2 separate regions of the Homo sapiens genome follow, and region 1 is linked to region 2. A link means that fine-mapping ties the variant in region 2 to the expression of a gene that starts in the linked region. Tissue or cell type: whole blood. Region 2 holds a variant in brackets; the other region holds the start of a gene. All regions are shown on one strand. Distances are from middle to middle. Region 1 holds the start of SYK (spleen associated tyrosine kinase). Region 2 has its middle 24 kb from the start of SYK.

What was found.
Region 1: it holds the start of SYK, and the variant in region 2 is fine-mapped to the expression of SYK in whole blood (TOPMed, PIP above 0.99).

Annotation. Positions count from the first base shown.
Region 1 is chr9:90,793,521-90,807,494 of GRCh38, reverse strand. It overlaps SYK (spleen associated tyrosine kinase), which reads right to left and starts at 5,676. Exons shown (of 14, transcript NM_003177.7): 1 at 5,602-5,676. RefSeq lists silencers at 5,538-5,697, 5,718-5,927 and an enhancer at 12,392-12,561.
Region 2 is chr9:90,769,494-90,786,221 of GRCh38, reverse strand. No RefSeq gene overlaps it. Among named protein-coding and RNA genes, the nearest start is that of SYK, 24 kb to the left of the region's middle. RefSeq lists an enhancer at 11,456-11,515. The variant A/G (reference allele first, on the strand shown) is at 8,159.

The DNA of each region.
Region 1 (13,974 bases), 23 kb before region 2:
GAGTGAAGCCCCCTGTGACTGCTCCATTTACAAAAGAAGAGCTTACAAATAAAGAAGGGGGACTTGAACCCAGTGGGGCCTCAGACCCTTACTCTCAACCCGTAGCTACAAAAATATTCGATAAATGTCACTTTGAGGCAGTGTATCCACCACATAATTCATATATTGTTAGCATTTAAGATGAAAACAACCACAACATTCTGCCTCTACCAAGCAAAGCCTAAGGAGCTTGGTAAGGAGCAGCAAGAGGTCATGCATGGTTTCCCAAAGAGGCTGTGGCAGAGCCAGCCCTGAAAGCCACTCTAAGAACAAACGCACTGCAGGGTCATGGAAGTGTAGGACCACTGGCTGAGACTGACTCTCTCAGAGAATCTCTGTGCATGTTACCTGCACAAAGGCTCTGAAGATGCCCATGATATTTATCCCTGCTTGCTGCACTTTATTTCATTCAGCATTTCTCATGCTTACTTACTTGAGCAAGCTTCCCAGGGAATTCCACTTAGCACTGCAGTTCCACTTCAGGAATCAATCAAGGAAATCGAGGAGAAGGCCAGCAATCTGCTTAAAGTCTCATGAGATCTCCATTTCCACAAAAATAAACATTCTCATCACTCAGATAATAAAATGTTGGTGTCGTATATAATACAAAAGTGACATTGACACTGATGTAAAACATAGATGCTAACTGTTAAAGTGGAGTTAAAAACCATCTCTCACTAAGCATGATTCAGAATGCACCCTGATGGAAGAAATCATAAAAGTTCTATACTACAATAAATAAATAACCATAGAATTAAAAAGCTCTGGAGAAATATTTTCAATAATTATGACAGTGGATTTACAACAGGTAAAATGTAGGTGAGTGTTAACAAGAGGCATATTAATGCCACAGATGTTACAACAAAGAGTATGATAAGCAATTTACATAAAACATATTTAGTCAACAAATATTCCCCATAGGGCTGGGCACAGTGGATCATGCCTATAATCCCAGCACTTTGGGAGGCTGAGGCAAGAGGATTGCTTGGGCCCAGGAGTTTGAGACTAGCCTGGGCAATATAGTGAGAGCCCATCTCTACAAAAAAGAAAAAGAAAAAAAAAAAAGAAAAGTCCCACACCAAATATCCTCCAAACATTCTTCAGGTATTACTGTATGTATAGCAAGACTGAAGAGCAACTGTTAGACAAGAAGAAGATGGAGGGTTCTAGAAAAAAAGAAAGAAAAATGGAACCGTGAGATTACTTGGTATATCTGACACTGTAGAAAATTGTGTCAATAGGGCTTTCATCTTTATGTCAGAAAGTTGGGAAGGAAATGATAATAGGCACAGTGCAAACTAAGAAAACACAAAAACAAAGCAAGGGTTTACCCCAGGAAGAGCAAAAAGGGGTACGAGATAGAAAATGGAATGATATACCTTGCTTTAGCAGTAAACTATATTTATATAACCATAATAAAATAAACCAAATAACTTCTTAATCTCAAATGAGAGAATAATTATCCTGGGATGGTGTGAGAAGGAGTAGAAGGTGATGGTGGTCTAAAACTCCAAAGTCCTGAATTCTCAGTGTCAACAAACACTGTTTAAAATTAGTACACCAAAAAACTTTGAAAATATGCCAATCATAAGGAAATAGTGAGAATTCTAGAGGACATAACTCAAAGCAGTACCAAAGGATGGGCAGAATGAAAAGAGGAACTCATTACAAATTAAAATTAAACAAAAAGAGAAATTAACTTAGGTCACACCAAAACATTTTCATGTCAACTCAACAGGAACTGATAGATGTAATATTAATAAACTACCAGGTTGACCATGGGAAAATAAAGATTTATCAGTTAAGACAAACCAATGGAGGGGAGAAATGAAAGGTCATATGTTGAACATTCAAATGCTACTTATAGTCAGGCAGAGTATACTTAAGTAAAGCAATATTTAAACTGTGGATATTCCTAAATCTCTGCCCTGGGCCCTCCTTCTGTTGAATTTACTTTCTCTCCCTAGTTCACAGTATCCAGGTCGAGAGCCTCCCTCACCCTGCTCGGTAGACCTGCAGCTTGCCTGCAAGGTTTTCACTCAGGTCAAGACATCTCTCATCTGCATCCCAGGCTAAAAGCCCACTGTCTCCTCACACTTATGCTCCCTTCCAGCGCTCCAGGACAGCAGTAACTGGAAGCGCCTCTCCAGCTCAGAGCCAGGATCCCAGTTTCAGAGCTAGACACCTCTGAGCAGAGGACCAGAAAGCTCACAGTACTCCTCAGTAATCCAGTAATCATCAACATTCTTAACTGTCCTCGCTTGCTCCACCACCATCTGCCTTTGGCCAGCTGCCAGAAATCAATACGTGGTGTCCCAGAAAGAAAAGAATCAAGGGAGCCATTTGGATTTATTAAATGTACTGTAACATAAACAAAATATTCTTTCTTTGCATATCTTTGGTCTTGGCTAAATTCAACTGTCTTTAAGATTCCAGTTTAACCACCTTTTAAGAGATGTAGGGCAAACCTTGCACAATTGATTCATAAAGGAAAAAAAAACCTCAAATTGATACAAGCTAATATTGGTCAGATAAAATTATAAGCAAATAGAAAATGTCCCTGATAACATCATATCAAAATGAATGAACTTTCCTAAAATCCAATCAGACTAGTTCTTAAAACATCTTCCCACAATCCCTCAGTAGAAAACCCTTTTTTCCTAGTATTCAAATCCAACCTGTTCAAATCTAAGTAGAAGAGGAAGGTGATAAGACACAAATGAGGCAATTTGATCATAATCTCTCATTAGGACTCTGCCTTCTGATTTTAGTTGCTTTAGAAGAAAAAGTAATGCTCAATGTGTAGACTTCTAAAACAAAACAAATTCTTCCCCAAAGGCCTAAATTCCTGTTGTTGTTGTTGTTTTCTCCACCCAGTTATAGCTAAACCAATCCAGAAGTAGTGGAAAATGTTAAAACCAGCAAAGCAAGAGTAGAAAAGTCAGGGGGTAGCTGGAAAAAAATCTATACAGGGAAAGTTGAGAAAGTAAAAATTAGCCATCACTTAGGCTTAGATAACTGACACAAACCCAGCTGGTTGCAAAGTTAACAGGAAATAATATTTCTTCCATGGACAGACTGCAGCTGTAAAGGGTGACAGTAACCCCTCCTGTAAGTAACTTCTGCTCTGTTTCTCTAAAATGGTAGACTGTCAGAAACTATGCTGTTTGAAATTATATTACAAAGATGAGACATCCACTCTTACTTGAAGTACCTCTATTTTGATCGGTATGATTGAAAATTCAGTAAAATCTTGCTATTTAAGACTCCCTAAAGAGAGAGGAACTGCCCTTCTAATTACTGGAAAGTGTGAAGTATTGAACAACATAAATGCACTTTCCTTTTAAAAGCAAACCGTAGTTCAGTGGAGTCTAATACAGACTCAGTCCCTCAGCTGCAGCTCTAAAAAGCTCTGAAAAACAACACTTTTTTTTTTTTTGGTAAGTCTTAGAGAAGCTCTCGTAGTGATAACACCTGCTCTAAACAGACACACAGCTCTTTATAGTCTTTATTTATTCCACTTAGTGAGAATATTCATGTTCTTAAATGTAAAAGTACAGAAATATTAATGCATGGAATTACAGGATTCTCTCCAGACTATATTGGAATGGCATGTAACCAGCAGGGTCAACATGTATGTTTACCTTTCTAAATTCTGAGCAATGTCTTTCTCAGTTCTGAAATTTAGATTCTAAATTTTAATTCCAAATTCTGAAAAAGCTTGAATTCCAAAATACGTCTTGGCACAAGCATATTGGATTATAACCATGGGCAAACAATGTGCTAAATAAGTGAAGTTCTACTAAGAAGTCTTCCATTAAAAAAAAGCAGAGAGATTAGACCTGCATTTAGAATATTAAATAGGGGCCTAACAAAGATCAGGGTGATTCATTTCTAAAGTGAAATCTAGCAATAAAATAACGTTTCTACCAATTTCATCTCTCAGGAAAGATAAAGACCTAAAGTATACACCCCATTTTTATCCTAGCTTAAAACTTTCTAGTTATTAAGACTATTATAAAATCCTATTTTATATTTCACTTCAAATACAGAGGCTTAAAAAAAAATCTTCCCACAATCCCTCAGTAGAAAAATCTCTTTTTTCCTAGTGTTCAAATCCAACCTTTTCAAATCCAAGGTAGAAGAGTAAGAGGATAAGACACAAATCAAGTAATTTGATTATAATCTCTCATTCAAATACACTTTAAAGTGCACTTCAAATACAGGGGATAATACAAATCAATTTCTGTTTTAATGCAAGAGTTTTCTAAATACGTTAAAACAAAAGTGCCGTTCAGAACAAAAATGATTTGATAAAATAATTTCAACTGACAAAGATTTCTCACTTAAAACACTTAATAATTTACATGTATTTAAGCCTTTTTGAGAAAATATAATTCTATCTATGCACTGCTCGGACTTTCACTGGGGAGAAGGAGGACATCAATGTATTTAGTTGCATTTAATTAAAATGCTGCCTGTGTGAAGGCAATGAATTTGTCCCTACTAAGACAAAGAAGTCAGATGGTAGAATCAATTCCATTTCTTCCAGGAACTCTTAGGGATTAAATGGTTCCTTTTTTTATTTTTAATACCAAGAATCAGATATGGCACAACATCTTCAACTCTTTTTTTTTTTTACTACACGCTGCAATGCTTTGAACTCTACTTGAGTTCGACTGAATCTTTGCTAAGTCAGGCAAAACTCAAAAAATATTTTGCAACACTGTTTCCAACGTAAAAAAAGATTCAAACTCTCACTTCTCCAATTGTCTTTCTAGTCCTTGAACATTCCAACAAAAGAATGGATTGCATTTATATAGTTTTTAGGTGGGCTTAAGGTTTTGGAGCCACATTGCCAAAAACAGACAAACAGACAAAAAGAAACACCCTTAACTCTTAACTCAAATTTACATTTTACTACATAAAACTTTCTTGCTCTCCAAGTTCATTGGCTAAGTAAATTACTTGACAATGAAAATGTATCCACAAGAGTAATTATGCTAAATTTTAGTAGTGGTTCAGAAGGGTTGTTGTTTGAATGCAACTGCTGTTTCTTTTTGTAGTAAAAGATTTGTCTAAGCTCATAAGACGTCTGGACATTTCTACTTTGAGTAACTTTGATAAACACTGCGGCATTTTCCAGTGGATTCGTGTAAATGGCCAAAGGAAAATGTTCTAGCTCCAAGATCGACTTCCTCGCGCTGTGCCTGATCCCAATCCCGCGTCTCCCGAGGGCCGGGCCGCGACCGCACTTTCCGCGCTCCCTGGGGGCCTGGGCGCCCTGGGGTGCCCGGGTCACTTTCCGCACGGTCTGACCTCCGTCCCCTCCGCCCAGGCCTGAGCCCCTCTCTCCCGGCGCAGCTTCTGGATCCCGAGCGCGGGTAGGTTCAGGAGCGAAGCTGGCGGAACCCACCTGTATTTTATTCACATGGTTTCAGCACTTTTACCTCGGCCGATGAAGGTAGAACAAGAAAGGGCATGAAAGCAGCGCGTCGTTCCCCGTAACCTCCTCTCCTTACCAGAAAGTCCCGGCCGGGTAGGGGACGCGGCCACACCTACCTGCGCCAGGTGAGGCGAGGGCGGGCGCAGCGCGGGGCCACCCGCTCCTCCTCGCTCTCCAGCCGCCGCCGGGGTGGCCTCAGCCGCCGGGCCCGCGGCTCTTCCTCATTTTGGGCAACTTCCTTAACGCGCCCGGGCAGGCGGCCCGCACTTCCTCCCAGTGTCGCGCCCCGCCGCCCTGGCCCGCCCTGCTGACCGCGCCCATGAGCCCGGAGCTGGGCGGGAATCGGCTGAAGCGCCGGGCGAGGCCCGCGGAATCGGCCCAGGCGGCGGCAGGTGTAGAGGAGCCCGGGTGGGGCGCGCCTCTCTCCTCCCGCCGGACAAGGGCCCTTCGCAGGCAGAGAAGGTGGGGCTGCCCGGGACATGGACCGCATCGGTCCCCCTCCTCCCCGCCAGCGCGGTGGCTTCTGTGACTGCCCAGGACCCACAGACACCCAGCGGCCCTTTCCTTTTGCTATGCAGTGCCGGGGAAGAGACTCCACTGCATGGCATATTCCCTGGAGTGTATCTTGGTCACCAAACCAACAAGCTCCAAGCTACTGTGCTGGAGCACTCGGGAGGCCTGGGCAGTGCTGAGAGGGACCCTGTAGGTGAACACCAGACTTCACGGCGCACTAGTGGGCAATGGGGCACGCTGCTTCTGAAGGCTTTAATTATTACAAAAGGCTTTGCTTCCTTCTTACCATGACGGCTCTGACGTCCACAACCAAATAAATTAAACCTATAGCCCTAAGAATGGTTTTGAGATACCCGCCTGATACCCTTCTCCCAACCCATCCCCCTTTTCCTTTTGGACATTCCTCTTTAAAATGTTCCCACAAAACGGCATCCAGACCTTCTTGATAACACTGGTTGGCAGTGCCTGTTTTAAAAAGCTTTACCCTAAGCCAAAATGCGAGAAGCAAAAAAATATATATATAATGTGCTGGATTGTAATTGCCATGGAGAAAATATAGGGATGGGACTATTTACACTTATTGGAGCCCCCAGCCTTTTCTGCTTCCAGGGTTATTGGATTTTCATTCATTTTTGCCATTATTTTTTCTAAACCTGTTAAAAGAAAACTTCAGCAGAATTAAATTTAAAGCAGTTTAATTGAGTAATGAATGATTTGCGAATGGGGCAGCTTCCAGAATCACAGCGGATTCAGAGACTCCAGGGATGCCTCATGGTCAGAACATATTTATAGACAAAAAAAGGGAAGTGACATACAGAAATTGGAGGTAAGGCAGAGAAACAACTGGATTGGTTACAGGTTGGCTTTTGCCTTCTTTGAACACAGTTTGAACACTCAGCAGTGTATGAATGGTTGAAGTATGGCCACTGGGATTGGCCAAGACTCAGCTATTGTTAAAGGCACATACTCCTAAATTAGGTTTTCAATCTTGTCTGCCTATTAAGCTAGGTTACAGTTCATCCACAAGGACTCAAATATAGAATACAGAGTCCTTCTCAGATCATACTTAGGTTGCTTTAACAAACATAAATGGAAGATTTTGATAATGGTTATATTTGCTTATCATTGGACTTAATTTTGCTTCAACTACCCGAAAAAATAGCCATTGTTCCTGAGATGGAGCCTGCAGAATGTCTACAGATGGTTTTCAGAGTTGTCAGCATTATTGGAGATGAACACTAGGGGACCAGTGTGTACAAAGCAAACCCAGCCTGCACAAAGATTGCAGTTTTCTCAGGCTTTCACCTGATGGAAATGAGGGGGAAATTCTAGATCCATCTACAACCTCCTTCCTTTACACTGCTGTGTTCCTTTCCCCCTTTGAGTCACCTTCCGCATTACTTAGTATCATGTAGTAATTTTTTTTTTTTTTGAGACGGAGCCTCACTCTGTTGCCCAGGCTGGAGTACAGTGGCCCGATCATCTCAGCTCACCGCAAGCTCTGCCTCCTGGGCTCACGCCATTCTCCTGCCTCAGCCTCCCGAGTAGCTGGGACTATAGGCGCCCGCCACCATGCCCGGCTAATTTTTTGTATTTTTAGTAGAGACGGGGTTTCACCGTGTTCGCCAGGATGGTCTCGATCTCCTGACCTCGTGATCTGCCTGCCTTGGCCTCCCAAAATGCTGGGATTACAGGCGTGAGCCACCATGCCTAGCCTAAAAGATGGTTCACATTATGTATCATCAGGGAAATGCAAATGAAGACAGTAAGATATCAGTATGGCCCAAATTCGGAACACTGACCGCAGTGAACACTAGTGAGGATGTGAAGCAATAGAAATACTCATTCATTGCTGTTGTGAATGCAAGATGGTACAGCCACTGTGGAAGACAGTTTGGCAGTTTCTTATGAAACTAAACATCCTCTTACAACATGAGTAATTATAAGAGGATTGTCCTTCTTGGTATTTACCCAAAGTAGTTGGTATTTACCTAAAGTAGTACCCAGTAATTGTGCTTCTTGGTATTTACCCAAAGGAGTTCAAACCTTATGTTCACACAAAAATCTGCACACAAATGTTTACGCTGGCTTTATTTACTAAGTTTATTGCCAAAACTTGGACACAAACAAGATGTCATTCAGTAAGTGAATGGATATATAAACTCTTGTACATCAGTGTAATGGAATATTGTTCCACACTAAAATGAAATGCACTAGCAAGTTATGAAAAGAAATGGATGAAATCTAAATGCATATTACCAAGTGAAAGAAGCCCTCTGAAAAGGCTACATACTGTATAATTTCAACAGGTGATATTCTGGAAAGAGCCAAACTATCTGGATAGTAAAAAGATCAGTGGCTGCCATGGGCTGGTGGGGAGGGCAGGATGAATAGAAGGAGAACAGAGATTTTTTAGGGCTGTGAAAGTATGCTGTATGATATTACAATGGTGGATACACAGCACTATACATTTGTTAAACACCATACAATATACAACACCAAGAGGGAACATCAGTGTAAACTTCAGGCTTTGGGTGATTATGATGTGTCAAAGTAGGTTCATCAATTGTAACAAATGTACCAGTCTGATGGGGCTGTTGATAATGGGAAAGGCTGTGCATGTGTGAGGTCAGTGGGTATATGGGAAACCTCGGTACCTGCCTCTCATTTTTACTGTGAACCTAAAACTGCTCTAAAAAATAGTGTTTAATTTAAAAAAATAGTTTTTTTGGTAACAGTGGCAAGTATTCCTAATAGGCAATCCCTTAAAAGAATAAAAGCACAAAGGAAATAGAAACATCCCAAATTTCAGACATAATCATCATTACCGTTAGGTGACCCTTACAAAATTATCTCTTTCTATATGTACACATGGCAATAGATATAAAAATGGGCATCATTTTAAATATAATACATTTATTATACATTTTATCCATGTTAAATATGATATTTAATTCTACTTAAATTTAACAGAATAAAAAATTCTGAAATGGGATCTAAAGAATTGCTGATTTTATAGAAATGATTCTTTGCCACAAATGTATCATTTCTGAAATGACCCCACTTTGATTAAAGGAAAAGAAAAGTGACAATAATAAGCAGTTTTCGTCATTTCTTCTAAACCATGAGCTTTAATTTCAGACAGTATCAGTAACTCTGCTATGATACATGAACCAATTACCTCTCTCACTCCACTTCACTTCAGCTCACCTCTCACGTTTCCCTAGTTATATGAGTTTTACATAGTTAAGTTTAAAATTTTTGATTTCTGTAACCATAAACCCTCAGTGGTCTCTTCTTAGTTCTCCATTTAAAAGGATACCTTATGCACCTCCAGACCTTTCTACCACCATATCTCATTCCTACTTTCTTTGTTGATGAGCTGGATGGACTCTGTGAAGATGTGATCCCACATACTGCATCTATCAATGCTCTCCACTTTCAGGATGTTATTCTGTTGCTGTTGTATTGCAGTGACATCAAGGTGGGCACATTGTGTCTCCATCCTACTTCCCTTTGGCCTAGACTCGGTTGATTTTCCTCCCTTGCCCCTTTGGCATTGAATGTTGTTTTGGAGAAATGTGAGAACAGCCAGTCCTTTGTCCTCTTTTAGGTGACTTGCTCTTCTTTCCAGGCTGCTGGAGGAAACTTTCTTTAACTGAGATATTAAGAAACTTGACAAGGATATATACTGATACAGATCAACCAGCATCTTTTATTTCTTTTTCTTTTTTTGAGATGGAGTTTCACTCTTGTTGCCCAGGCTGGTGTGCAATGGCGTGATCTTGGCTCACTGCAACCTCTGCCTCCCAGGTTCAAGCAATTCTCCTGCCTCAGCCTCCTGAGCAGCTGGGATTACAGGCGCCCGCCACCAAGCCCAGCTAATTTTTTGTATTTTTAGTAGAGACAGAGTTTCACCATGTTGGCCAGGCTGGTCTCGAACTCCTGACCTCAGGTGATCATCCTGCCTTGGCCTCCCAAAGTGATGGCAGGAGTCACCACACCCGGCCATCTTTTATTTCTTAAACACAATGCACTCTTTAATGCACATCATAATCACCCAAAGCCCAAAGTTTGCATTGAGGTTCCCTCTTGGTGTTGTATATTGTATGGTGTTTAACAAATATATAATGCTGTGTATCCACCATTGTAATGCGCAGATTTAGATCTTCATTCAAAGAATTTTTTCTTGTGTGATTTTAAATACCTTTTTATTTGTTAAGTGCTTTTCTTCAAGGATATTAATTAACTTTTTATCATCTAAGTCTATTATCTTTTCTCTGATTGTAGTAATCTACTTTGTTTTTTCTTCCTGGTTCACAGTGATTTTCTCTCTCTCCCTTTCTTTTTTTTCGGGAACTAAATGTTTAGCTGGGTCTGCTTTATTTCTTGTTATTTCTAATTTACCTGTAGGTAGGTTTATTGGTCCTCAAATTATTTCTTTGTCTCTGGTTCTCTCTATCTCACTCTTTTTAGTTATTTTCTCTTGGTTATTCAATCGGTTCTTGAGTTTTTTAAAAAATTGAATGCAGGCTCTTATCAAATTTTGTAGCCTGTGCACTTAAAAATTCTTTCAGACTGGATTTTATTTTTAATTTGTGCATGTTATTTTCTTTTAAGGTTTGCATAGCTGCTAGTTCATTGATTTCATCTTGTCCATACTTGGCAGCTTTCTTCAGACTTTCACTTTGCTCTGCCCCTTTGTGTGTGGCAGCTCCTAAATCCTCATGTCAGAGCCTTTTCTTACCCCTTTTCTGGATTACATATGACGGCTTAATATTCCTTTTGAGCTTGATTTTCTATAACCTTTGAGCGTGGGAATGGTGGGGGTGGGCTTAGCTGGAGTTGTGTTGCACAAACTGGGCCCCTCCTTCCAATGTGAGACTGTGAGGAACATGCAGGCTTCGCACTTCATTGAGGGAGGGAGAAGGCTGAGCTTACTCTGTCCAGCGAGGTTGGGGGCATCTGTGAGTTTCAGCTCATTCCCCCAATTAATGTGGGTCGTTGGAGTCCTCACACTCTGACAAAATCATGCCACATTGCTGCTATTTCCTTTTGCACTAATCTCCACTGCAGCCATTTTCACTACTCCACAGTCAAAAATGAGAAAAACTAAGGATAAACAATGGCCCCTTCTTCTCTCAAGATCTGAGTGAGAATTGTTCAGGATTTTGTAGACGCACAATATATGGTTTCTGGGAGGTTGGAGTGTGGCCTCATTGTGATACTCTCAAACTTCTGGTTTTTATATGAGCCAGCGCTTTTCAAAGTGCATTTTGTTAAGCGGTTCTCCTTTTCTTGTTTGGTTACCACTTGTAACTTTAGCACTTTTGTTTCTTCCCGCTTCCCTTTTTTCTTGAGGTAGAAAGATGAGGAAAGTAAGGATTCTTTTCTTCTAGATGGTGAGGCCTTGATATTCTGTAAATGTTTCACTATGTTCTTTCAGAATGTAATGGCCCACATGTTTTTTACTATAGAATATACGCTGTACTTTTTTTTTTTTGTGACAGGGTCTTACTCTGTCACTCAGACTGGAGTGCAGTGGCGCAATCACAGCTCACTGCAGCCTTGGCTTCCCCAGCTCAAGTGATTCCCCCACCTCAGCCTCCTGAGTAGCTGGGACTTTTTGTATTTTTAGTAGAGATGGGGTTTTACTACGTTGCCAGGCTGGTCTCAAACTCCTGGACTCATGTGATTGCACATTTTAATATTTAGAATGTAAGGTCCTCATTTTTGTCTCTTCTAAATTAAAAAAATACACAAGTTACACATGATATATCTGTTAAGGTGCTTTAGGTTGCAAGTAAAATAATAACCAACTCCATGTATTGAAATAATACACTTTTATTGACACACAAAGGAGAATATTGCATAGTTAGGACAGCATCAGGTGTATTTTTATGCATATTACATTAAATTTAGATAAAATTAATTATTTTCATATGTAGGTATACCTTTAAAAAAAAAGTAACAACCCTATTGTGTCCTATGAAGGGAAGTTAATTTTGATAGACCAGCATGATGGAGGTGAGTGGCTTCTCTCAGTGATTTTCACCTTCTGATCACATTCATCCAGTTGCTGAAATGACACAGGATGTAGCCAGAGGAACAACTTCCTTCTGCTGGTATTCCCTAACCAATTCAACCAGATATAAAAGTGACTTTTCACCTACAAATGGTAAACTTCCTCATTTTTCTTTTGTTAGTAATCTTTTGAACAAACAAAACAGAAAAGTTACTTAAAGACCAAAGATAGTGTCTGAAGTGTGATCACATGTGTTTAAACCCAGCGGTAGGTGCACTGGCCACGGGTCAGGAAGCACGGGCCATAGTAGTCTCAGCTCTGCTACTTTTTGTAGGTGTGCAGCTCTGAGCAAGTCAAGTTTCCTCTGTGTACCTGATTCCTTATTTTTTTGTGAAATTCCAGGGAGCAAACAATTCAATAATTGAATTAGGGTCCTTTACTTGCCAGACATGACCCAAGCCACTGGAGATTCAAAAGGATGGAAAAAACTTATGCTCAAAAATAACTCCTCCCTTTCATCTATTTCAATGGGTAGCTAATCATTTGCTTAACAGAGTACTCTTTTAAAATATAATTATATAATTAGAAGGTAGTTCAGCTGTTATTTTTCACTGTAGTGAAAATTAGATGGTTTTTCTCATACCAAGATCTTTTCATTCTTTTTCTTTTTTATATTTTTCAAAGTGCGGTTCCATTTTTAAGTTTTCAAAAGATATAATTCACATAACATCCAGTTTACTTGTTGAAAGTATACAATTAAATTGTTTTAAGTGTATTCACAAAGTTGTACAACCATCATCACTATCAATATTAGAACTTTTTTAAGCACTTTTTTTCTTTTTTGTGAAGAATGGGGTCTCTTTATATTGCCCAGGCAGGTCTCAAACTCCTGGGCTCACACTATACTCCTGCCACTGCATCCTTAAGTGCTAGGATTACAGATGTGAGCCACTGCACCTGGAAGAACTTTTTTAAACCACAAAACAAAACCCCATACCCATATCACTTCTCATGCTTCCCATCCCACACAATCCTTTCCCTCCTCCCCATCCAAGGCCCTAGGAAAACCTCCCATCTACTTTTTGTCTCTGTAGACATGCCTATTCTGGACATTTCATATAAATTGCATGATGTAATATGTGCTCTTTGTGACTGGCTTATTTACTTAGCATAATGTTTTCATTCATGTTATAGCATACATCAGTGTTTTACATTTTTAGTACCAAATAATATTCCATTGTATGGATAGGCCACATTTTATTTATCCACTCATCGGTTTCTGCTCTTTGGCTACTATAAATAATTTTGCATCAACCATTCCTATACAAGTTTTTGTGTGGGTGTATATTTTCCTTTTTTCTTGAATATATAACTAGGAGTGGAATTGCTGAGTGATATAGTAAATCTATGTTTGTCATTTTGAGGAACTGATAACTGTTTTCAAAAGTGGCTTCACCATTTTCAGGTTTCCACCAGCAAAACAGGAGGGTTCCAATTTTTCCACATCTTTGTCAACTCTTGTTATTGTCTGTCGTTTTGATTATAGCCATCCTAGTGGGCGTGAAGTGGTATCTGATGACTTCATTTTCATTTCATTTATGACTAACAATGCTGAGAATCTTTTCATGTGCTTCTTTGTCATTTGCATATTTTTGGAGAAGTGTCTATTCAGATCATTTGCCCAGTTTTCAATTGAGTCACTTATCTTTGTATCATTAAGTTGTAAGAGTTCTTTACATATTTTGAATACAAGTCTCTTATTAGATATAGAATTTCCCAATATTTTCTCCTGTTCTGAGAGTTGTCTTTTCACTTTTGTGATGGTATCATTTGCAGAATAAAAGTTTTTAATTTTGATGAAGTTCAATTTATCGACTTTTTTCTTTTGTTGTTTATGCTTTTGGTGATGTAGCTAAGAAACTACTATCTAAGGTCATGAAGATTTACTCCT
Region 2 (16,728 bases):
TGGGTTTAGTTCTGGTGTTTCTTTTGCTTTTCATTGATCTATCTAATATCCAATAGGATGTTGCTGCTTTAATTACTACAGCTTTGTAATTTTGCTTCATTATAATTTTTTTTTTCAGGATTTGAGAAACTCTGAGGGCAAAAGCTTCTCCCCTCACAAGATGAGATTTTAACTTTTATTATCAGTACACATAGAAAATACGTATGTGTATGGATTCATAGACAACAGATTCTCTGATTCAGTTTTGAGAATAACTCAAACCCACCAATCATTGATTGGCACCATGTTGGGGGATTCACGCTTCTATTTTGAGAGTGGGATGGATAGCACTCAGCATCTCAGTGTGTGCATCATCACTGGTGCACAAGTCCCCTCCAGATGTCAGCTTTGCTCTGGGACTGGTTTGCTCCATCCCTGGGGGCAGAGGTACATCCAGCAATTTTGCTCCGGGGTCCTGTCTCTAGGATAGAAGAGGTTTTAGAATCTCTAAGTTACAGTTTTGGAGAACTCCAATATTTATAAAGTTCTTTCACACGTTTTACTTCCTAAGACATCTCTCTCTCTCTCTTTGTGTGTGTGGGTTAAAGCTGCTTTCTGAAGTTAAGACTTTGTCCTTTATTGTCACACAGTTTAGGTGTTTGGAGACTACTATTACCAGCATGGCAAAGTGGCCTACAGCACTGACCGTGGAGCCAGATTTGGTTCAACTCCCAAGTTTATAACCTACTAGCTGTGTGACTTTGTGCAAGTTACTGAGCCTCTCTGGGCCTTGGTTTCCTGATGTGTAATAGACTCTCCCTCTTGCATCTGGGCTGCCCTATTACTGCTTTGACCAAGAGAGTGTGGCAGAAGTGACGGCATTTTTATTTTAAGCCTAGCCTTTTAGAGGATGGACAGCTTAGGTCTTGGTCTCTTGGAACCCTGAACTGCCATGTAAGAACTCCAAAGATTGCTGGAGAGGCCAAAGGGTGGGGCAGAGTTGGAGGTGCAAAGCTGAGCCCAGTCTTCCCCAATCTTTGCCAAGGCTGTGTTAACAGCCTGAAAGCCAGCTGAGTGCCTAGTTAATGCCATGTGAAGCAGAAGAATCACCTAGCTGAGCTCCGCCTGAGCTTCTGAGTCACAAAATCGTGAGATATTTAAGAATGATTGTTGTTTCAAGGCACCAGGTTTTGGGGTAATATGTTACATAGCTTACCTAGTAATAGCTAACCAGAACAGGTAGTGGTGTGAGGTTGTGCCTAGGGCCAACTTCATAATCTGTGGGGCCCAGTACAAAATAAAAAATGGATCCTGGTTCAAAAAGCAAAATAAAATGGCCATTAAAGGTATTAAAATATAAAACCTTTTTTCTCTTCTGTTGTCTCTTTCAAGATGTCAGTGTTTTTTTAAATTTGCTATTGAATGTCATTCTAACTAAATAAAAATAGAAATTATAAATTATTAATACGGACTTTACCATTTATCTTTACATAGAATTTGTTATGCCAGTTTTAAATGTAAACATAAAAACATTGGACTCGTATGCGGAATCACCAAAATTACACAATTTGCACTTTGTAGTTCTTATGTGCTTATATAGTTCATTCTTTACGAGAACAGTGGTGATGCTGCACAAAACAAACTCAGTCATTTCTATTTCACTTCTTGCTATGTGCACAAGCACCAGCACCCTCTCAGCACCAGCAGTCTGCAGGCAGAGTCTGCCATTAAAGGGGTCGTGACTACCTTGGGAAATACACTGTGGTCCATTAAAGGGGTCGTGACTACCTTGGGAAATACACTGTGGTCCAGAGCACACCAGGCACCAGGAATCGTGACCTTTTATCTGGATGCAGGAAAGAGAAATGATCTTTGAGGTCCAGGGTGCATATTGGAGTGGCGTAATAGGAGCTAGGGGGAGAGAAGTTATCATCCTTCTTGTGGGTGTTAAAGAAACATCCAAATTAGGATGGCAGTCACGTGTATATTTCACATTCCGCGGCTATTTTCATGGCCTTACTGGGAAATGTGCCTGGGAATTAGATTTTCTTATACACGTGTCAAGCCCTGGGAGTGTTATTTGAAAGCGTGCTATTTCTTTATGAAATTTAATACTTTTGTCCTTGGAAAATGTCTGAGATATTGCTGACCAAGGATGTTTTTAGTATACAGCTGATAACACTGTTATTGTTGTACTCTGATACATCTCGATAGCAAGCCAAATTAACATGACATTCTGCACCTTTACGATCTACCATCTAACTTTCCTAGATAAATTCTGAGAAATAAAAATAAAATTCTAAGTCCCCTAACTAACTGAATGGACTCCCTCTTTGTCCAAGGAGCCTCAGAGAAGCCTTAAAAACTGAGTTGCCAGCCATGCCAGGCACACAGGAGGTGGGACACGCCTTGTTATGCCACCTCCCTTACTGCCATCAATCTTCCTTCTCTAACAGACAGAAACCAGCTCTTTTGAAAGACTCGCTTCACCTCTGATTTACACAACAACTGACTGGCATTCCTTCCTGATAAAAGACCACTGGCCGTAGACTGGCTCTGGCAGGTATTCACAGGCTGCAGACAACATGCCCCTGTGTCCTTGCTTTCACTTTGTGACATACAGAGTGAAATTATAATGCAATTAAATGTAAGTCTTCACCCCAAATGAATATGAGATGAATGTAACATGGATGTTTGCTTGCTATGAATGTGTGCACCCCCTTCATAATTATTCTCAGCCCTTCCTATAACTATTGAATATGTATACTTAGCTAGCCCATTCAGCCCAAATTTCTGTCTCACCTTTCCCTCTTTCAAAGTGCCTGCTTTTGGTTTCTACCAGAAGCTATGCTTCCCAGCCTGCACAGTGGGCAGCCTGCTGGATGCAAGCCTTTATAAGAAATAACACTCTCCTCTCCAAATTTATGAATCTCATGATTCTTTAGTTAACAATTACCCAAGCCAGATACTTCTTACTTGATGAATATTTCTTAGGTGAAGAGCAGCTGAACTTTAATACAAAATTCACATATTTATTTGTCTTTAAAACACTGTGTAATTGGCTGGGTGCAGTGGCTCACACCTGTAATCTCAGCACTTTGGGAGGCTGAGGTGGGCAGATCACCTGAGGTCAAGAGTTTGAGACCAGCCTGACCAACATAGAGAAATCTCGTCTCTACTAAAAATACAAAATTAGCCGGGTGTGGTGGTACATATCTGTAATCCCAGCTACTCGGGAGGCTGAGGCAGGAGAATCGCTTGAACCCAGGAGGTGGAGGTTGTGGTGAGTGGAGACTGTGCCATTGCACGCTAGCCTGGGCAACAAGAGCGAAACTCCATCTCAAAACAAACAAACAAACAAACAAAAAAACATGGTCTAATCCATTCTACAGCACATTTCTACAATCATCAAAAGTGGAAGCTCAATATGGAGAAACAGAGACATACCTGCAAAAATTTTTGTATACAGTTTTTTCAAGATCTCAGCTTTCCAATATAAAACATACATACTTTATGTTGACAAAACAATGAGAAATTGTCCTTACATCTCTCTGCCAACTGCATCTTCTTCCAACATCTATTATATATGCAATGTCTACTGAGCATTATGCAGGCCTAAGCTCTGGGGGTGCAGGACAGGCAAGGTCTCTATTTTGCAGAAGCAAACAGTTTAGCAGGCAGATAGGCAATCAACAGTAAACTGATAAATATGTGATATGTAAAGGCATGTTTAATAAGAGCCCTTTCTTTTGAAACAGGACACAATTGCAGGTGCTGGTTATTATACCAAGGCTTTGACTAGAATAACATTATTAGGTGAAGCTCCAGCAAAGTCAACTTGAAAAGAGTCTCTATGGCCAACTGTAAAAAGTAAAGTAGAGGTTCCTCTTCAAAGACTTTCCTCCCCGTCTAATTAGGAATAAATAGTAACTTCTCTTAGAAGCAAAATTTATTCAAAGACCTGTGCTAACATTCTTAAATATCTGCTAGCCATAATAAAAAAATCAATATACAATTTATGTTCCTAGCTCCCACAATTTAGCCTAAATATTTGCCCTGGCATGCTTATACTGGTCCAAGCAAGCATTAGGTCATAGCCTGTTCCTCTTCCTTATTTAAAAGTGTTTTTACCTTTCTCAGCCTTCCACTAGTTACTTCCTCCTTCCTTTGTTCCCCTCTACCTTTGCCTCTTTTAAAAAGTTCTAAGTTGCTAGCCAATCAGGACAAATACAGAATGCGAGCTCTTGTTCCAGCCAATGGAAACTGGACACAACAGTAGGGTGGACACGTCAGGTTATAAATGACCCTGTCTCCTTTGTTCAGTGTACTCTCATGGCAAAACTGCTGGCGAGTGTACCCTTTCTGCAGGAAGTAAAAGTGGCCTTACTAAATAAATTAAATTTATGTTCAAGTGCTATTTCTTTATGGCACCAAAGAACAAGCATTTCAAACCAAGTAATTCCTGCTGCGCTTTATGTGAATAATCAAGCCAAGTGTAATAAGCCAAAAACTTATTCTGCACACAAATTGGTCTTACTATAATTTCTCTTTAGTAGAAAAGGAGGGCTAGAGAATCAGAGAAAAATTGTTTCAAGGGAAAACTGTAACACCCGTTACTGAATTCCAGCCCCGACTTGTTTTAGAGTGCAGATCGAATTACATCTCTTCCTACAATAATCCTCTAAAAAGTACCAGCTTATAATTTTCTTCATGTTTTTAGTTGTTGCCCTAATGAAATAGTTTCCTTTTTCTGTTCTGACACACAGATTCTGTTTTGATTAGCAAGTTTACTAATGTTATTTATCTCATGTAGTTTTACTTCTGAGAAAATTAGAATCATATATTCATAAGACTAGAGATAATTTGACAAAGCCTGTGAATCTCCCTCATTTGGAATCCCACCGGGCCCCATCTGTCTTTCATTGCAAATGCCCTGCTGCTAAAACTATACAAGCACCCTCCCTCTAGGCCCAGGGACTATCACGTAAGACGTCAGTGTGTGAGATTGCAAGGGCCAGTTTTGTGGGATAGAATTAGTTTAGAGCCTCCAAATCACAGATACCTAAACAGCTGGTAAAATAAGGGACTGTGCCTCCTGTGTTATTATGTATGTGGCACCCTTTTGTCCATCCTAACCGTAAAGAATTTCCTGCTTCCCATAGAATTAAAAGAAAATTACTGAGAGGATATAAAGACACTTTGTGACAAAGCTTGCTGGGTATAATACTCCCAGTTATGAGATTTATGCATATATATATATTTTATTTATTTATTTATTTATTTATTTATTTTTGAGACAGAGTCTAGCTCTGTCACCCAGGCTGGACTGCAATGGTACAATGTTGGCTCACTGCAACCTCTGCCTCCCAGGTTCAAGCAATTCTCCTCCCAAGTAGCTGGGATTACAGGCACTCACCACCATGCCTGGCTAATTTTTGTATTTTTAGTAGAGATGGGGTTTCACCATGTTGGTCAGGCTGGTCTTGAACTCCTGACCTCGTGATCCACCCACCTCGGCCTCCAAAAGTGCTGGGATTACAGGCATGAGCCACCACGCCCGGCCTATATATATATATTTAACGTTTATTATCAGCCGTCTTGGGACAAATTAGTAAAATACTGCAAAAATCATTGAGGCACAGCAAAAGTCTCTGAATTCCTTAGCTTAAAAGGCTTTAATAGTGCTTATGTTTTGTATAGCTAATTGCAATAAGTCTGTAACTAAAACCAAGATCACAGTAGCTCAACATATAGAATTGAGAGGTAGATAAGTCAATTTGTAACCTTGTCTTTGGCTTTTTGTTTGTAGGCTCTTGCATTACTGAAAAAATGTTTTAAGGACTAGCGAACACCTGTCTACATCCATCCCTGTCTGGCCTAGAACGTTTACATTGGCTATGCATCTTTTGGCTCTAAGTCCCTTGGCCATAGGCGTCCCACTGAGGGACAGGAGGGACCCAGAGCAGACAGCCATGCCACTTTGGCAATGCTATGGGACACAGTGAAAGTTTGGTGTCCATTGATGTTGCTTCTGGCAAATCTTGGCCAGAAGAGGGAGAATGTATAACAAATACAAAATTCTAAGCCCCCAATCAGGACCCCTTCTCTCAGCCAAGGGCATTCTAAAGTTAACCTGAAAAACTAGTTCAATCCATGATGGAAGTAGGGGTTTGGTGGGAAGAGGGTGTTGAACATGTCTCACAGCTGACCAGAATTAACATCAACACAGAGACCTGAAGACTGGTAGACTCTTTAAGTCTGAGAAGAAACACTTACAATCTATTCTCTTTGAAGCCCTGCTACCTGGAGGCTTCATCTGCATGATAAACCTTGGCATTCACAAACCCTTATCATAACCCAGATTTCTTTCTATTGATTCCAGGTCTTAAGATATTAACTCCCCCAACCATTTGCCAATCAGAAAATCTTTGAATCTGCTTATGACCTGGAAGCCCCTGCTTTTGAGACTGAACCAATGTACATCTTAAATGTATTGATTAATGTCTTAGGTTTCCCTAAATGTATAAAACCACCTTGGGCACAAGTCCTCAGGATGTCCTGAGGGCTGTGTCATGGACCATTGGTTGCCCATATTTAGCTCATAATAAAATATTAAATATTTTACAGAGTTTGACTCTTTTTGTTTGGATTGGTAACCATCACTGTGATCAAGACATAGAGAATTTCCATCATCTAAGAAATTGTCCCCTTGCAGCCAGTCCCCAATCCCCTAGAGCCTATTAAAAAATACAAAAAAAAAAAAACAAAAAAACTTAACCAAGTGTGGTGGCACATGCCTGTAGTCCCAGCTACTTGGGAGGCTGAGGTGGGAGAATAGCTTGAACCTGGAAGGCAGAGGTTGCAGTGAACTGAGACCACGCCATTGCACTCCAGCCTGGCTGACAGTGAGACTCTGTCTCAAAAAAAAAAAAAAATTGATTTCTGTCATCTGAGATTCGTTTTCTCTGTTCTTGAACTTTATTTAAATGAGATCCTTACATTTATGTAGTTTTTTTTTACGTCTCCCAAGGCTCTGTCATTCACATTTATGTACTCTTGTGTGTCCAGTTTCATCTGCTCAACTTCATGGTTTTAAGATTCAGCCATGCTGTTTATTTATTTTTTGTTGATTGTGATAACTGTGACTTATAATAAGAAATACACTGTATTTGGTCTTGTCCCTGTTTTCTGGCGTACAGCTCCTATCTGCCTTGGAATCTCCAAAATGGTAAATGCCTTTTTGTATGCTAAGGAGATGACTGATGGGGGATGGGGAGCTCCTAGATAGCCTCAGGATGGGGCTGGTTGCCATGGGAACCAATCATGTGATTAGCAGCTTGGAACTCTCAGCCCCAAGTGGACTTCTGGGGAGAAGAGTGGGGCTGAAGTCTGACTTGATCACCAAGGGCCCATACATTAATCAATTATGCGTATGTAATGAAACATTACAATGAAACATTCACAAAAACCCAAAAAGACAAGACTTGGAGTTTCTGAATTGGTGAACAATGGAGAGTGGTGCCCCAGGAGTGGCAATGGAAGCTCTGCGCTTCTTCTCACATACATTGCACTATGCATCTCTTCCATCTGAGTATTTATCTGTATCCTTTCTAGTATCCTCCATAATAAATGGGTAAATGTGAGTAAAGTGTTCCCCTGAGTTCTGTCAGCTGTCCTAGCAAATTATCTAACCTGAGGAGGGGGAATCCTTATATATTTATTTATTTATTTATTTATTTATTTATTTTTGAGACAGAGTCTCCCTCTGTCACCAGGCTGGAGTGCAGTGGCGCGATCTCGGTTCACTGCTACCTCCGCCTCCTGGGTTCAAGTGATTCTCCTGCCTCAGCTTCCCGAGTAGCTGGGACTACAGGCATGCGCCACCACGCCCAGCTAATTTTGTGTGTGTGTGTAATTTAGTAGAGACAGGGTTTCACCATGTTGGCCAGGATGGTCTCCATCTCCTGACCTCGTGATCTGCCCGCCTCTGTCTCCCAAAGTGCTGGGATTACAGGCATGAGCCACCGCACCCGGCTGAAAATCCTGATTTATAACTGGCTAGAAGTGCAGGTCACAACCTGGGGCTTGGGTCTGGCATCTAAACGGGGAAGAGTTTTGTGACACTAAGCCCTCAACCTCTGTGATCTGATGCTATCTCCAGGTAGATAGTATCGGATTA[A/G]AACTGAGTGGAAGGACACCCCGCTGTCCTTTGATGACCAGAAGTGTTCTGTACTGAGTATGGTAGGAGAAAAACTGTTCGTTTGTTTTTTTCAACTGTAATTATACAGAGATATATATTTATTTGTTTGTTGTTCTGTTGATGGATATTTGAGCTATGTCTAGTTTTTTTTTTTTCTGTTTTGAATAGGGCTGCTATGAATATTCTTGTGTGAGTCTTTTTTGTGGACTTACATTTTAATTCCTCTTGGATAAGTTCCTAGGATCTAAGAGTAGAATTCCTGAGTTATAGAGCAGATGGCTGTCTGGGAAAATGCCAAGAAGGTTCCAAAGGGGTTGTATCATTTTGTGTACAAGATTTGTGCAGTGTATGAGAGCTCCAGTTGCTTCACATCCTTGCCGACACTTGATGTTATCTGACTATCTTTTAGTGAGGGGATGGTGATATCTCACTGTGGTCTTAGTTGTCCTGATGACCAATGATGTTGAACATATTTTTATGTGCTTATGAACTCTTTTCTGTTATTTTTTATGAAGTGTTTGTCCAATATTTTGCCCATTAAAAATTAGATTGTCTTTTGATTATTAATTTGTAGAACTATAAAAGATATATTCTGGATTGAAGTCATTTGTCTGATACATATTTGGCAAATATTTTCTCCTAATCTACTGCTACCTTTTTCATTTTCTTATCATTGTCTTTTGATAAGCAGAAGTTAATTTTGATTAAATGAAATGGAACAATTTTCTTATTTTTAGATGAGTGCTGTTTTTTACCAGCCTGAGAACACTTTGCCTACCACATTAGATATTCTCTTATTATTTTGAGAAATTTTATTGCTTTTATGTGTAATAGAACTCTGATGCATCTTGAATTAATTTTTTGTATAGTGTAAAATAGGAAGTGAGTTATTAATTTTCTACACAAATATCCAGTTGTTTCAGCACTATTTCTTGAAAGGACTTTCCTTTTCCCTTTTTCATTGCTTTGATGCTTTTGTCAAAAATCTTGTAATTGTATACATGTGGGTCTACTTCTGGAATTTCTATTCTGTTTAATTATCTATTCATCCTTACACCAATACCATACTGTCTTGATTACCATACTACATTAAGACTTGAAATTAGGTATTTATTTCCCTATTTTATTTTTCAAGACTGTTTGGGTTATTGTAGGTCTTTTTCATTTCCATATAAATATTAAAAAATTAGCTTGTTAATTTCTACAAACAAGCCCTCTTTGGATTTTGGTTGGTATTGTATTGAATATATAGGTAAATTTGGGGAGAAATGATACTTTAACAATAGTGAATCTTTCCATCTATGAACATAGTATAACTCTCCATTAATTTAGGTCCTTTTTAATTTCTTTTAGTGATGTTTTATAGTTTTCAGTGTACAGGTCTTACACATCTTTACTTATTTCTAAGTATTTTATATTATTATAAAATGGTATGTGGTTTTTTTGTAAGTTTCATTTACCATTTTTTATTGATATTATATAAGTATGCAATTGAAATTTATATATTTACTTCGTATCCTGAGACCTTAGTAAGTTCACTTTTGTGTTATAGTGGTTTCTTTGTAAATTCCTTAGTTTTTTTTATGTAAACAGTCCTGTCATCTGCAAATGGAGGAAGTTTTATTTTCCTTTTCCAGCTTTATATTTTTTATTTAATTATTTATTTTTCTTGCCTTATAGCAATGCCTAGAACTTCCAGTACAACCTTGAGTAGAACTGGTGGATGTGAACATTTCTACCTCCTTTTTCATCTTAGGGAAAAGTGTTCATGTCACCATCAGTATGACACAGGCTATAAGTTTTCTATAGATGCTCCTTATTGGGTTGATAAAGTATCCTATTTCCTTATTGTTAAGTGCAATTTCTCCAAGAGTCTTTGAGGTCTCTTTTCAGTTGAAGGACTTTTAAAATGCCAATAAATTCAAAAAGCATTATTTCACAAACAGTGCTAATTATGTTCTGTTCTCTAAGCATCAACTCATTTAAATCTGAAATAAGGTCAGGGTGCTATTCTTTACATTTTCTGGCAGAGGAAACTGAGGCACAGGTTGGCAGAAAAGGTTCTCAAGATCAGACATCTAGGAAGTGGCAGAGCCAGACAGTCTGGCTCCTGAGATCATAGGCTAGGCTGCCCCTATATCCTTACGCACGTGGTTACTGTAAATCACTTCTGCCATCACTTGACCATCTGAAAGTAGCAGATGCTACTGAAAAACACCTTCTTTTTCGGGGTGGGGAAGGGATGACTGCTGAGGGTTTTAGTAGGAGTATATTTCTACAGCATGGTTACAGCATCCTACATTGCAGAAATGTAAGTTGACCTAAACTATGTATTCATACATGTGATTTCTCTTTTATTTCCTCAGAATATTAAAAAAATGAGGATACTGATTTTATTCCTCAAAAGAAGTTTAAGTCTTGCTTTTAGTTAGTAGCTACCTCCATAGCTTTCCATAAAATATATATTTTCCTTAACTCAAGAGATAAGAAAGCAACTGTCTTCATGACCCAAAGCAGTATCTTTTCAAACGTTGTATTTGGCAAGATAAACATATTTAGTTTTTATAATCTCTACAGTGTATGTTCTTTGCGCTTTTCCAGTATAATACTATATATTTTATATACAGCAACAGAAATTGGCATGCATATTTTTATATGCATCAATATGTGTATGTGAATTTATACATATACTCTGTCCATACGTGTATTTCGTTTAGGTGTGAAATAGTAACAATGGCTCCTATTTCCTCAGTGTCCACTTTGTGTAGGCAACCAGGGGCTTTATATTTTCTGTCTTTAATTCTTACAAAAATTTTGCAAAATAAGTATTGTCACTCGCATGATCCAATGAGAATTTGGAGACAGGAAAGATTAATCACTCCATTGAAGGAATACCGGTAGTAAGTAGTGAAGCTGGGATTATTTCTGGAATTTCAATCCAAACCCATTAGTGGTGGCGATTTGAATGATTCTTGCACAATGGCCCTAGTGCTGTGTGGCTGTCCAGAAGGAAGGACACAGGAAGGACAAGCGCTGGTGTTGAGGCAACGTGTGGGCAACCCTTGCTAGCACATGTGTTGTTTGGTGGCATGAGGTTCTCAGTTAATATGAACCACACCTGCTCAAGCTTGTTTACTGGAGGCACTGCTCCCTCAGCAGGATCTAATGGGAATGCCCTCATTTGGTTTTGGTCACAGTCCTGAGAGTGTGACAAACCACATAAAAGGGGAACCAGGCCTCCTACCAGGTGCCCAAGGGTGTTGCAGACCAGGGCCACCTCTTTTCTTCGATGTGAGTGCTGAGAAGACTTGCTTAGCATGTGCTGCTCAAAAAATACTTGGGAGTGAATGAATAGAAAAATGGACAAATGGACTTTTCTATGGTTCAGTCATTAATAGCCCCTGCCCTCGAGCCTACCGCCCCAGCCCAGCTGCTCATGGCCTATGGAATTTCCTCCTCACTTTGACAGTTGCACTAGCTTCACATGGCCTTTTGGGAATAGCACCTGTGCTACCCTCCAGGTGAACTGCTCTGTAGGGGGCAAATGTGAGCAAAGCGTTAGGCCCAGCCCACAGGGAATGTTTCCTTGTGTGGGGCAGTGGGGTAGGCCAGGCGCAGTGTCCAGGACACATGTCCACTGAGATGGGTTGTGACTGGGGGATGGAGCTAAAGATGCTCATGAAAGCCCAGGATGCCTTGGGGACAGTGGGAGGTTTGGCCTGGGATGACTCCCCTCCTCATCCCTAGGCAGACATGTGACTTTGGGTCCCTATGTCAAGTCCTGAGAGTTTTCAGTTTCTGCATCTGCAAGGAGGAAGTTGGAGCAATAATAACCAACATTTGTTAGAACACGAAGTGTCACATACTCTGCTTACAACTTGATGTGCATTTTATTCTTTAATCTTTGGATAAGTGGCCCCAGGGATTATCGCATCTCACATATGAGAAACTGATGCTTAGAGGGGTTGACAACTTGCCCAAGATGGCACAGCTAGTACCAGCACAACGTGAGCCTGACTCCAAACCCACACTTCCTATGTGACCCTCACCATCCCGATAGTTCCAAGTGCACTTCTGACCTCCTGATTTTGCCCCTGGAGAGTGAGAGACTTTGCAACTGTAACAACCTCACTTCACCTTTTATGCAAATCTCATGTATAATTTTCATAAACTTTATTTTTTTAAAATGTAATTCCCCAGAGGCCTTCCCTACCTGACTTGGCCTTGGATGGGCAGCAGAGGGCAATGTAGTCTCAGGGAGGCACCCTCCCTTCCCCTGGGCTGGGAACTGTGAAAATCTAACCACTGCTAGCAAAAACCAGTCTCAGCTGGAAATGGTCTAATCTTCTTGGAGGGGATGTTGGAGAATACATAGCAATAGATTCAGATGAAATCCTGTCTCAGTAGGCACACTTAGAATATTGTTCCTTGGATGGCATTAGAAAGGGAATCTTTTTTTTTTTTTTTGTAATATAGAGTTCTCATTTTATTCCATGCATGAAAAGAAGAGATAAAGGTTTTGTGCTTTTCCTCGCCTCTATTAATAGAAGTTATTAACATGCCTATAATAGAAACCATTTCACCTTCGCTGGAACTGATGATGATGCTTCATGATAGCACAGTGGTGCCCTGTTGCCAAGTATTAGATATGGTCCAATGTCTCAAAAATTACCAGTCAAACGGATTTGTGAGTGTCACAGGTTGTTTTTAAGATCTTTATAATTATTATTTTTAGACTTGGTATCTTTTATATCCATACACTGCTAGGATTCAGATCTGAAAGTCAGATTGCCCTAATAAACTAGTAGGGGCTCCTTGGGTGACAAAGCCACTCTGACAGTGACTTCATTGGCTGTTCATTGGCCACATACCCTCGCCTGGTTCTCTGAAGAGACATCACATCGCAGGATGTGATGAACACTAGTTTTTATTTTCTTAGCAATATTTCATTAATTCTTGGTGTGTCGTAGTGAATAAATTACTGTCAACATCTTTTGAGCACCCAACATGCCAGAGCATTTCTAAACAAAGGCAATTGACAAAAGATGTAGAATACAAATGTTTGAGCGCTTAAGGGCTGGGTGCTTTTTAAGTGCTTTATCTGTATGACTGTGTTATGTCCTCACAACAGCCCTACAGGTATTATCATCATCCCCGTTTTACAGATGGGAAAACTCACCCAGAGGTGCTACGGAACTTGCGCAAGATCACAGAGCTATGAGAGCAGAGCAGGGAAGCAGCCCCGGATGGGCGGATTTCAAAGTCTGCACTCTCCATTCCTACTCCTTCCTGCTTCTCAGTGTCAGCAAGAGCAAATCTCATGAGCTCTAGAGCATCCTGGCAACCTTCTGGGAGGGATGCTCTTTACCTTGATCTATCTATGTTGGGTTCCAGAATCTTCTCCCTAAATGTAAATGTAACAGGAACTGTTGGTGACTCACTCACACCCCTCTGGCCTGGGGGGTTCTATCTGAGTTGCAACTTCTTCTTTGCCTGAGGACATTCTCCTAAGCCTCAGGAGGCCTCTCTGCCCATGTCCAGGGTGGTTTGAGTGCTAGGGAATTAATAGCCCTGGCAGCCCTCCACCAATGACTGACAGGCCGGTGTCTGAATGTCCCAGCTCCCTCATCCTTCAGGAAGAAGCACAGATTTTTCTGCAGTTTCCTTGTGCTCCAGCGGCTCACAAATGCGCTGCCTTCCCTTCCTGGTCTCACCTTCCCCTCCTGGTCCCATGTCCCTGCTCCCTTGCTGGGGTACCTTGCACCTGCCAAATAAATTCTTTCTACTGGGATCTCAAATCTGCGTCTGCTTCTGAAAAAGCCAAGGTAGAAGGGATGAAAGTGTCCACATTTAACAGTAACTTGGGACTTCCTGAAGATATCCAAGGATTTTTTGGGAAAGACTGAATTTACATTCTGAAATGAGAGCTGGCATCAGTTAAATGAACATACTAATTAAAAAGCTCCCCTTGGCAGGGAGCTGGTTCTTCCTTCTTGTCATGATGGTTAGGGGAGTGGGGTCTGGGTCGCCTCTTCTCGTGACCTAAGTGCTTTGTGATCACTTACATGGCTTGCCCACTTCCCTCTTCAGTGCCTGGTTCTGGATCCTGGTAGCACCTTCATCTGTGCTTGTGGCCAGGAATGGGCATTGCTGCTACAGCCATGGCCCCACCCTGCACACATGGATCTACCTTCTCTTCTTTGTGGCCCACCTTCCTGGCTCAGGGACGCTGCTTCTGCTTGAATTCCAAATGGAAAATGGATGCTCCCCTTGGAGACTGCTTTTCTGTGTAGCAGAGAGCACATTGTTTATACTAACAGTAAATCCATGGATTCTGTCTTCTAATAACAGGTTGGTTATTTACAATGTGCCAGGCATTATTAGAAGTGCTTTGCTTATATTAATTAGATTGTCATAAAACTCTGTGAAGTATGTGCTATTATTTTCTTCATTTTACAGATAAACTGAGGGACAGAGAATTCAAACAACTTGGCCCAAGCTATACATTGAGTAAATGGTACTATCTTGTGTCAGATCCAGATTTGTAATGGAGGAAACCAAAATATTTCACCTCCAAATATCCTTCTTTGACATATTTTGAGGTGGCTGTTCAGAGGGCCTGCAAACAGAGGTAGCCTTGCAAAGCTGTCCTTTGCGGGGAGATTTGCATCTGTACAGAATCAGCATGGTGCAGCCAGGTTTTCTCTGAGGCTAACCCTTGTCCAGATCAAGAAAAGATTAACAGAGTCTGACACCTTAAATTTCTGAAATAAACATTTACCATCTATTCTCTCTGAGGACTGCTACCTGTAAGGTTTCACCTGTATAATAAGACCACATTTGCAAGCCAGACCTCCTCTTCTCTTCCTCCCATAACCTGCCTTGACATCATAACCTGATTTACCACCGCAACCAGTTTTTGGCCGTACTCCAAGCCCACATTTTTTCTGTAACCTTAAGCTGTGTATAGGCTGGATGTGGTGACTCCTGCCTATAATCCCAGCACTTTGGGAGGCCAAGGCAGGAGGATCACTTGAGGCCAGGAGTTCAAGTTCAAGGCAACATAGCGAGACCCCCATCTCTACAAAAAGTGAAAAGAATTAGCCAGCCATGGTGGCACAGGCCTACAGTTCCAGCTACTCAGGAGGCTGAGGCGGGATTGCTTGAAGGACTGCTTGAGCCCAGGAGTTTGAGGCTACAGTAACCATGATCCTGCCATTGCACTACAGCCTGGGCAAGAGAGTGAGACCCTATATCAAAAGCCTTTAAAAAGATAGTGTAAAAGTCTCAACCTCCTTACCATTTCTTGGAGATCTTTGTAAGATTCCTGTGCACATTAATAAATATGTGTGCCTTTTCTCCAATTAATCTGTCTCTTGTCAGTTGATTTTCAGTGACCCTTCCAAGGGCAAAGAGGAAGTTTCCCCTTGGCACCCACAGGAACAACTGCCCCTCACTACCTTCTGCTTCACAGTTTCAAATGACTGGCCACTCACCAAAAGGCAGAAGAGGTTCATGAGTTCCTCTTTTTCTCATTTGCACTTGACCTCTTTCTCATAACACACATCCAGCCATGTCTTCTACATATTTTTTTCCCCAGTAAAACATCTGTGACTCATAGTTGTAAAAAATCAAATGAAATAGTAAAAATGTTTTAAAAGTACATCTCAGGGCTGCTTCCCTTAGAGGCTGCTGCTGCGCAACACTAAAGGACATACATGAAGGTGTGAGAGAGCAGCGTGACATGTGTCCCATGGTCCCCATGGTTTATACACTTGGTTTTCCAGAAAGCATCTCTGGTCAGCACAGATGCAGAATTTCTGGTTCAGTGCAGTTGGCTGAGCACTTGTGCTTAATGCCCCACCCACAAGAGACCCCATTGAAAACGATTTTGAAAGAGGGAACAAAATGTCACTGCAGACACCACTGGAGGTGAGGTGGCAGGTGGGATTTCACTTCGGGCCAGATTGAAGACTGGTTGAAACAGGGAAGAGGCATGCCTACCAGCACCATGATGGTTTACGACTGCCGTGCCAACACCTGGAAGTTACCACTTCTGTTCTAGAAATTTCTGAGTAACCCACCCCTTAATTTGCATGTAATTAAAAGTATGTATAAATATAACTGGAGAACTGCCTCTGAACTGCTACTCAAACACACGGCCTTTGAGGTATCCTGGTTCTGCAGAGGCAGTCACAGAGCTGTAACACTGTTGCCCCAATAAAAGCCATTTTTTTCTACCACCAGCTCATTCTTGAAACCTTTCCTGAGTGAAGCCAACAATTTTCCCAGGCTAAGCCCCAGTTTTGGGACTGGCCTGCCCTGCATCAAGTGGCATTCCTAGCTGCTCTCACAGAAGGCCTATGCCCTCCCTGGAGCCTCCTCAGTGCCGCCGTTCTGAGGAGGGTCCTGCCAGTTCTCTAACAAAGGATTCCATCCCAAGGTCATCAGGCACCTCTCCCCCTTATCCAGCTAGCTCCAGCCTATACTTCTTACTGCTCAAAAGAGTAAGCCCAACCAATACCTCCAGAAGTGGACCCCATATCAGC